Homo sapiens: one gene and its partner. The protein of the gene in region 2 purifies or fractionates together with the protein of the main gene of each other region. This does not show direct contact. Each region holds a gene or a part of one and is shown on either strand. Other genes may lie near its edges.

What was found. Proteins that work in one complex are often made in the same cells at the same time.
Region 1: the proteins of TRIM43 (region 2) and PCCA purify together in Homo sapiens (affinity purification with mass spectrometry; one large-scale study listed by BioGRID and IntAct). This does not show direct contact.

What each region holds. Positions count from the first base shown.
Region 1 is NC_000013.11:100,524,937-100,529,398, reverse strand, and holds part of PCCA (propionyl-CoA carboxylase alpha chain, mitochondrial isoform a precursor), read right to left. Parts: intron 1,725-4,462; coding exon 1,647-1,724; intron 1-1,646. UniProt on the Homo sapiens protein: This is one of the 2 subunits of the biotin-dependent propionyl-CoA carboxylase (PCC), a mitochondrial enzyme involved in the catabolism of odd chain fatty acids, branched-chain amino acids isoleucine, threonine, methionine, and valine and other metabolites.
Region 2 is NC_000002.12:95,593,807-95,598,486, reverse strand, and holds part of TRIM43 (tripartite motif-containing protein 43), read right to left. Parts: intron 4,468-4,680; 5' UTR 4,464-4,467; coding exon 4,053-4,463; intron 3,438-4,052; coding exon 3,342-3,437; intron 2,286-3,341; coding exon 2,055-2,285; intron 1,159-2,054; coding exon 1,136-1,158; intron 608-1,135; coding exon 510-607; intron 1-509.

The sequences.
Region 1 (4,462 bases), on a different chromosome or scaffold from region 2:
GCTCTTGCTTGGGCCTGAAAATGAAAAATGGATTAGAACTCATCGGCCACTGCAGATGCTGCTTGGACTGAAAAGGCTGCTTTCCACAATGCTCCTGCCTCCATTTAGCAGCCCTACTAGAGGACGCAGTGTTAGTGATGCAGCGATGACCAGAGTAGAGGATCTGTTTCCTTTGTGAACTTTTTTTCTCTGGGAGGAAAAGTGGCCTCGCAGGTAGGAACCAGGGCCTGCTACTTTGCACGGGGGCTTCGGGCCACTTCTGCTCTTCTTGGCTGGGTTGGAACTGAGAGGCCTGGGGATGGGGTGAGGTGAACAGAATGCACAGGAAGACTCCAACTAGGAGGGCCGAGGGAGACCCAGGCCACGAGGACAGGAAACCTACTACCACATGGCACCATGCCCCTTCAGGGAACTGATGAGGCCAAGGTCATTTCTGCATTAGCACCTCAGACCTGCCGCACAGGGCCCTTGGCATGCGGCGGACACACGTTCTCGGTCCCCCACACCTAGGCCAAGTTCTCATCATGGATGGATGTCGTGATACTAGGGCAGCACAAATGTTAAATCCCAAAGAACAGATAAAATTTTTACATGAACAGAAACCAACATTTTCTTGTTCACTTTTTAAAGAAGTAATTTAGAAAGAATTCCTTAAAAACGCCACAAATCATGTCATTCTACTCTTCACACCATACCAGCACAGTGCAACTGTCCACACCCCTCCAGACCGGCGGGCTGGGCTCAGGAGCCCCTGGCATACACCTGGGCCTCTGTTCTCCCAGCCGGGACCAGGCATGACATCCCCGCTGCCCCTTCTCTGAGAATCCATTTCATTGCCTTCTGCAGTGACAGAGCATGAGACAGAGGTTGTGTGTCTCTCTGATGCAAACCTGGTTATGAACTGATGGATCTCTCTTTGCACCTGATGTCCCCAAGGCATGGCCACATGCAGAACACGGCCAGCCTTGCGCTTCCCATCATGCTCTCCCATGCAGACACTTCCAAACCACAACGGCCCTCACAAAAGGATCATTTACCTACTAACGGCATCTTTTCAGTCTTTTTAGTCACAGGAAGAATAATGAAGTTACTGCTTAAAAGGACTTTTCTATCTTCAAGAAAAAAATACACTTAAGTTTCACTATGAATGAATTTCAGTACTAATATTTTTTTCTCCCTAAATAATTAAGTCCCACATGTACATGGGGTTTTGGCTTCTCTTGATCTGCAACTGAATTGTTCCCTTTGTAGAGAAATTGTCTTGAAGAGTTACATTAATTTTTGCAATTTGTAAAACCATTTGCTGCTGTGTCACCTAAGTCTCAGATAACTAACTGCCTTCAAGACAGATGTAAACATTAAAAATTAAAGACCCCTTAATTTGAAAGAAAGACATTAAGGTGAAGAACAATTGTTCTTTGACTACCTGAACATAAAGCACAGACTTTTTGGAAGCCACGCTCTCTACGAGGCAGGGATGCATCAGGGCAGAATGGCAAAAGCTCCCAATCCTAACGTCCTCCTCTGTAGAAGCGAGGGGGAGAGGGCGCCTCTGTGGCCCTTTCCAGCCAAACCACCCACGATTCAAAGGTGGGCGTTCCTCCATCACAGGGCCGGCCTGGGCTGATGGGGACTTAGGGACTCACCGTGCCAGTTTTCCCAGCTGTCATACTATTCTGCATTTTCATGGCTTCAATCACACAAATTTCTTGACCTTCTGCTACCTGGAAAACAAAAATGGGCAGAAGTTTTAAAAGCATTCTAATTTTGCATTAACACTTAGGAATGAAGCCATTAAGAAATTCTTTGTCAAATGCCCCAAAATATGTGTCTATGAACAGCAGCAACAATCTCTAATGTTTCCTATTCCAAGCTCATCTTTAGGAACAGTAGAGAAAAGCCATTCTCTCTCTCATAAAGTCCTCGTTGGAAAAAAAAAAAATCCCTGACCCTGGAGAAGTGGGGACCCTGGCGGCGGGGCCTACCCTGGGGATCTCTGAGTCTGGCTCTGCCACTAACAGAGGTGTTCGGAAATTGGAATGTTTTCCACTTACCTGAAATGTCCAGAATAGGCAGATCTCTACAGACAGACTCGAGGTTGCCTGGGGTTGAAGAGGGAAGGGGAGTCACTGCTGAAGGGTACAGGGTTTCTTTTGAGAGTGATAAAAATGTTCCAAAATTGATTGTGGTGACAACTACACAACTCTGAATTGACTGAAACCACCGAATCGTACACGTTAAAGGGCTAAATTGTATGTGAATTACATCTCAGTATAGCTGTTACCAAAAAAAAAAAACCACCACCAAATATACATATTTCTGTCTATAGTCCCGGGGAACTGGGAACAGCTCGGCCCTGGCGCCACGAGGACCACTGTCCCATCCTCTGCAAGACACAGCGAGTACCCACAACAAGGCACAAGGCAGCTTCCGGAAAACCCTCCAGACACAGGAATGACTTCCAGAGCTACATGCATTCCATGCTAGGAGACTGGGAGCGCCCACGGGCCTTTGCTCAGACTGCGTTCAGAACTTGCCTTTCATCCTGAGGGGCAGCCAGGCTGAGCTGGGTTAAGCCCACTGGCGTTAAGCGTGAGGCTTCCCTGCAGGAGTGAGCTGCAGCTGAAAACCATGCTGCGCACTCACTTCGCTCTGCCCCGATGGGTCAGCGTCCTGAGCCGGCCAGGTTTTTCTTTGGCCTCCCAGTCTTTGAAACGGGCAAGTCCAGGTTCCTAGGGCAATGGCTATGTGGTGTGGGTGGGTGTCCTGGCATGGGGCTCCTGGCCCCTCACACCACTGTGGCCATATTCGTCCAATGCCTCAGAAGCGCCTAGAGAATGTTCTTTCCTGAAATCCCCAGATGATCTCCAAGTCCCCCTCTGGCCCCCCCGTGTGGCGCAAGCTGTCTTGCTGGCACTCTGGAGCGCCTGAGCCGATGTACTCTTTTCCTCTGCTGTTCAGGTGGTGGGCTGCTTCTTCCTGGCATAGAAATATAGGAAGAGAGACGATGCCAAGGCTTTGGCGCTGGCACGGAGGAGAGACACCGCGCTGAGGAGCTGGGCCTGGAAGCGCTGCCCGCGCTGCCCTTTTTGATTCATTTTCACGTGGCATCTGCATTCCAGGGAGAGCGAAGAATCAGCCTCGAGGGCTGTTTGCAGGGGGATGGGAGGGGCAGCGCAGAGACAATGCAGAGGCCCCCATCAGGGGTGTCAGAACAGTCACTCCCTCCAGTTGGCATTTTACAGCCTTTTTTCTCTCTTCAAAGGCAGGCAAAGACCAGGGAATCCAGGAGCAGGTCCAGTTCACTGCAGCACACCTGCCAGCCAGCTCCACACAGGGGACCCTGGAAGCCTGGCCGTGTCCTCTTAGAAGCTGGACTCACTGCGACTGACTCTGACCTAGGACTGAGCACTCAGGCAACAGGACCGGGGACTCTCTGGGAAGTGGATCTGAGACTCAACAGAACATAGTAGAAATGCCATCCAAAAATGAGGAATCCACTCTCCCGCTCTGGGCACTGTTCTCTCTCCAGGTGGAGGAGCTTCCTGGGGACTGCATGCCGGCCTCCCAAACACCCACCCAGCCCTTCCTCTGCAGGCATCTGAGGGCCCAGGACTGGCCAGAGCCCCGTCCCCCCGCCAAGTACATTGGCTTCACATGGGTGGCACAGCCCCTACCCTCTCTGCCAGTAGGTGTGCCCTTCCACCACACGTCCCCTCCCATCCCCTTGCTCAGAATCTGCGGGCCAGACAGGCAGGCAGCTCCTGCTTCTGTTTTACAGGATCTTCAAGTGAGTGCGTTAGCAACTCAACTGCAAATATGAAGAAATGCGGCCTGGGGATTTCCCAAGGTCACGCTAGGGGCAAAGGCCAGCCTGACCTGGCTACAGCTCTACTCTGGGCCCCGCCAGGGCCTGGGAGCAAGTGGGTGGTGGACAGGAGCTTAAGGGGCTCTGCTGTGGCTGCCACTGACCATCTTTCTGGCTGGCTCTGTGCTTCTAATGTGGGTGATTTGCAAAGAGGTAACGCACAGGTAACTGCAAGTGCTGGGTCCCCAGTTGTTCATCAGAAAAAAACCTCGGATTTAGCCCGAGACAATCAGGAAAAGTGGGGAGGCCTGAAATTCAAATAGTCCTTCTGTCTGATTGTGAGAGTCCGGCAATTCAATTCAAAGGACTTTAAAGAAGGCGTGTCCCCACTGAAGCGATCCCATCTTCTGCCCCATCCAAGCACAGCACTGAATCATAGAATTAGATCCTCCCTGCTCCATCCGCCTTTCATTCCTGTTTCCCCTCCCTAGTTCCTCTCGTGGTGTCTACTAGTCTACTTATTTAGCTCTATCCTATCTATCTTATCTGCCTGTCTGTCTGTCTATCTATCTATCTATCTATCTATCTATCTATCTATCTATCTATCCATCTTAGAGACAGAATCTCGGTCTATCCTATCTATCCTATCTAATC
Region 2 (4,680 bases):
AATCATGTTCCTATTGTTGACAGATTCTCAGTTTTTGCATTGTTATATAAGTTACTCATGTATGCTTTAGTTGATTAAAAACATGATTAAAATTATAAATGCTATGAAACATCACCTAAAAATGTATTTTTTTTAAAAAAACGCTGTCACTCAAATCAGTCGTTAACTGCACTGAATTTGAAATTGAAATGTCCTGAATTCAGTTCTGTATACTTCATGTAATAATTGTATACATGAAATTGTATCAGAGAATGGTTCCTAAAGTCCTAAAGAGCCCTTCTGCATGTTTTATTTTTCTAAGAAATTTGTTATATGGCTGATTCCTATTACATTTCACCAGCTTTTATTTCGTTTTGTCTGTTTGATGATAGTGAAACTATAAATATAAATACCTATTCACAGGCTATTCTCTTCTTCTAGATGAAAGATCATTACACTGGGAAAGCTGCCCATAGAAAACCATAATTGAAGGCATTGCATGTGGATCCCACCAACAGGGCCACACTCACCTCGGAAGCGGTTGAGCCTGTACACCAGTCCAGTGATGGGTCCTGCAGTGAGCTCTGGATTCACAGGCTGGGGCATGTGCAGCAGCACGGACTCACTCCTGCAAGGAAGTAGGTTGAGTTGGTTAACTTTCTGATGTCTGTGTTTAAGAAACAGATTCCAACAGAAAATGCTTCATTCAAACCCACTTCTGATACCGTAATGTACCTCCACAACGCTAGGATGGGTTTGTGGCTCTTAGGGAATCTTTCTAACTATTCACTCCATTTCTAACCTACTGCCCCTGAAAGATAAATGCCTCTCTCCCTATCTGCCACCAAATAGTTTATCTCTAATTATGATTCTGAATCGCAAAAAGAGGCAACTGTATTCTAGCAACCTCTGCATTGCACTCTTCAAAACATAAACCCCTGAGTCACTTGGGAAAGTAAGAAAAGATTAATGTCTGATAAAAGGCATAGATGACATTCATCATACCACATAAACACATGACTACACACACATACACACACAATCACACTGACACATTATGGTGTTAGTAAATTATGTTTTCACTTTGTTGGAAACAGCTTGATGTTTTTCATAGCATGCCTTGTGCTCCAGTTTGCACTGACGGCCAAAAACATACCTTGCCACGATGTCTCCCAAATCCTGTAGAGAGAGAGAGAAAAAAAAAATGACTTCTTTAGAAAGTTGTTATTCTTGTTGGGTGAGGTGGTTCACACCTGTAATCCCAGCACTTTGGGAGGCCAAGGTGGGTGGAACACCTGAGGTCAGGAGTTCCAGACTAGCCTGGACAACATGGCAAATCCCCGTCTCTACTAAAAATACACACACACACACAAATAGTGGGGTGTGGTGGTTCATGCCTTTAGTCCCAGCTACTAGGGAGGCTGAGGCAGGAGAATTGCTTGAACCAAGGAGGCAGAAGTTGCAGTGAGCTGAGATTGGGCCATTGGACTTCAGTCTGGGTGACAGAAGAAGACTCTGTCTCAAAATAAACACACAAAAAAGTTGCTATTCTGCCTATCTGGTCTTTAGGTTTTCAAAACTTTAGAATTACCGTATACTATTACTGCCACTCTTTTAAAATGTATTCTCATCTCTAACAATTATACCAGTAAGACCTATTGACAATATGGATTTCTGATAAATTAAGGACCCTAAATTTGAGTGAGAGAGAAAGGTGTGAGTAGTGACTGCGCATTGCTGCAGCTGTCTACAATGTGGTCTTTTTCAGGGCTAGTCCCCAAAGTGTAATGTGGCTCAAATCAAGCATGAAATTTTTTCTTCCAGAGTTTTAATGAAATGTGCTGGAGGAGGAAGCTTGTGGTAGAAAATGTTGTATGGAAATCTAGTTGCACAATTCCATAAAGCTTTATTTCCATGATTAGCGTAGGAGTTATAGTTTATCTCTATAACCGGTGGGAATGACTCTCACCGTCAGTACAGGAGATGAGGAAATAATGTCTTTGGTACCCAATGGAAGGCAAAGATGTAAAGGTCAGCTAACACAAAGTGTCTCAAGGGGCATCCTCCATTCTTACCTGGAGCAGCTCCACATCTGGTTTATGACACATTTCCATTAGTTCCTGATACATTTCTTTCAAGTGTTTACTCTTTTGATCCATTTTGACCCAACTTCTCTGGAGTTGCTGAAAAATCTCTTGGTATTCCTTGTTCAGTCTCTCTAAATGTTGTTTTTCTTCCTTATGGAGAACCGGATGCAGCTTCCTATACTCATTCCTGATCATCTGTGCCCGTAAAACCACATTGCCCTGTAGGGATATGAATTTTGTAGGTTATATACCCAGGCCTACTTCCACCTCACAGAGCCTACAACTTCATCCTCCTCATTCCTTCTTTTATTTTCCATCCTTTACAAACAGGATGATGAGTTAAGCAAGACCTTCCTTCAAAATTTATGTAATTCATCAATTCCCAAACACCTGCAAAAAAGCCCTTTAGGTTTAAATGTTTAAATCAAATCGGAAATACAATTAGAAAACAACTAAAATTTATGATTGTTACATTGTCATGGATAATACACATAATCTTTGTTATTCACTTAGGTTGTTGTTTCAAATCTCTGTACTTCACAGCCTGAACAATCACTCTTAGTAGAAATGTTTTTAGTATATTATAATCAGGATCAGAAGCCATCACACAAAAAGGATCTTAGTAAAAAATTTAACCCCCATCTCTCAAACTGACTACCTCTTTTCTGTCTCCTATCTTTCTTCTGTCAAATCCATAGACTCTGTATTGCACTGCCATTCTAAGAACATTAATCCCCATTCCATTGTGTTTCTCCTCTCAATAATGACATATTTATCCTCTCACTGCCCCAGTCATTTTTTATCCCTTCTCCTCAGCTTTTCCTCATGTTGCATTTTCTCCTACTCGGACTGGCATCATGTGGGTCCTTTGCTATCAGATTTCACCAGCACAGGCACATTTCTTAAATTACTGTTCCCACCCGATTTCTTCCCCCTGGACAATATCATATTCACCAATAAATGCCTTTATTTCTCAATTATATACTATTTAATCAACATTTCATAATTAATTTTATACAGAAAACTCTGTCTGAAATACTTATTAATTTTAAGCACATACTTGCCCTTCAGAATTTATATTTATTTTTTACTTATCTGAAAAGCATTTACAGAAAACCTGAACAATCGTTATGTTGAACAGTCTGGTTGTTTTCCAGCCTATGAATAAACACATGACAAAATCTGGCATAAGAATTTCAACTCAAGTTGCTAATATAAATGTTGTCAGCATGCCTGTCTCAAGCTGGTCAGGAGGACTCACGGTCTCATACTTACCCTCCAGAGGAAGGCTGTTCTTCCCTCCTCATATAGATTTCTCTGATTTTCTTGAATCTTTTTCCATAAAATCCTCATTTGCTTTAAGAGTTTCTCCTGCAAAAGAATTACAAGGTTGAACAACAGAAAGTCAAATGCCAAAGATTCCACAATCTGAGTGGTATACACAGGCAAGGGATAATATATAAATACATTAGTGAGAGGAGAAAAAAACAAAATTTTTCATTGCTCATCCTTAATTGATATTTTTCAGTTTGAGGTTTCAGAATGTAGAACAGCTTAGGGAACTGAAGAGTGAAGATTTCCTGTAACCCAGCTAAATTAGTTCAGGGAAACATCCTGCTTCAGAACCCACTATGCTAGCCCCTGATTTTGTAGTGTGCTACTCCCATACTCATTTGTCCAGTAATATTAAATATATTTCCAAAATACCTTTCTTTGCACTGGTAGTTTTGGTAGCTTTTCAATGTCATTAGCATTGAACTGTAGAGTCAATAATAATGACATTTACTTAATCAGTCTCTTTTTGGGTGCAAGCTCCATGAAGGAAGGTAGAGTTGCACATTTTATTCAAAATGTCATCATTGGTACCTAGAACAGCACCTGGCACTCAGTAAAGAATGGAGTAATCACCATGATTCTCATCATCCTTCTAATATCTTTAACTCTGCCACCCTCCAGCTTTCAGGTGATCACAGAGCTATCTCTTACCCGGTGTTCCTCAGCTGCCTCTTCGATGGGATGGTGTTTGTGAGCCCCGTGCTCCTGAGAGTTGGAGCACAGCAAGCAGAGGAGACTCTTGTCCATGTCACAGAACATCTTCTTTGTTTGCCTATGGGTCCCACATATTTGTTTCTCAGAGCTCAGGAATTGCCAGAGACTGGCTTTTCTGGCAATGGTCACTAAATTCTTCAGAAGAATATTGGTTTTGAAGTCCATTTTCGGTGATGGTTCCCTGCATGCAGGGCAGTTTGCAGGACTTTGGGCTTCCTCCCACGAAAGGCAGAGACAGGGCCTACAGAAGCTGTGCCCACAGCAGATGGTGACAGGGTCTACCAGGTAGTTCAAACAGATGACGCAGGTGAGTTCCTTCTGGAAGGCATGTGAGAAGTCTGAGTCCATTTTCCTAAGGAAAGAAAACCACAGGAATTTAATCTTCTACCCTGGAGAGACAAAGATCCAAGCAAAGTTTGAATCAGATCGTGATCGAATAATATCCTTTCTTTCTAAAGAAGTATAGGCTTTAATCTGCAATGACAGAAATAGGAAAAACAGAAAACTAAGGCACAAAGAGACATCAACCTCTATAAAAAGTGACTGTTCTCCAATCAACACATGA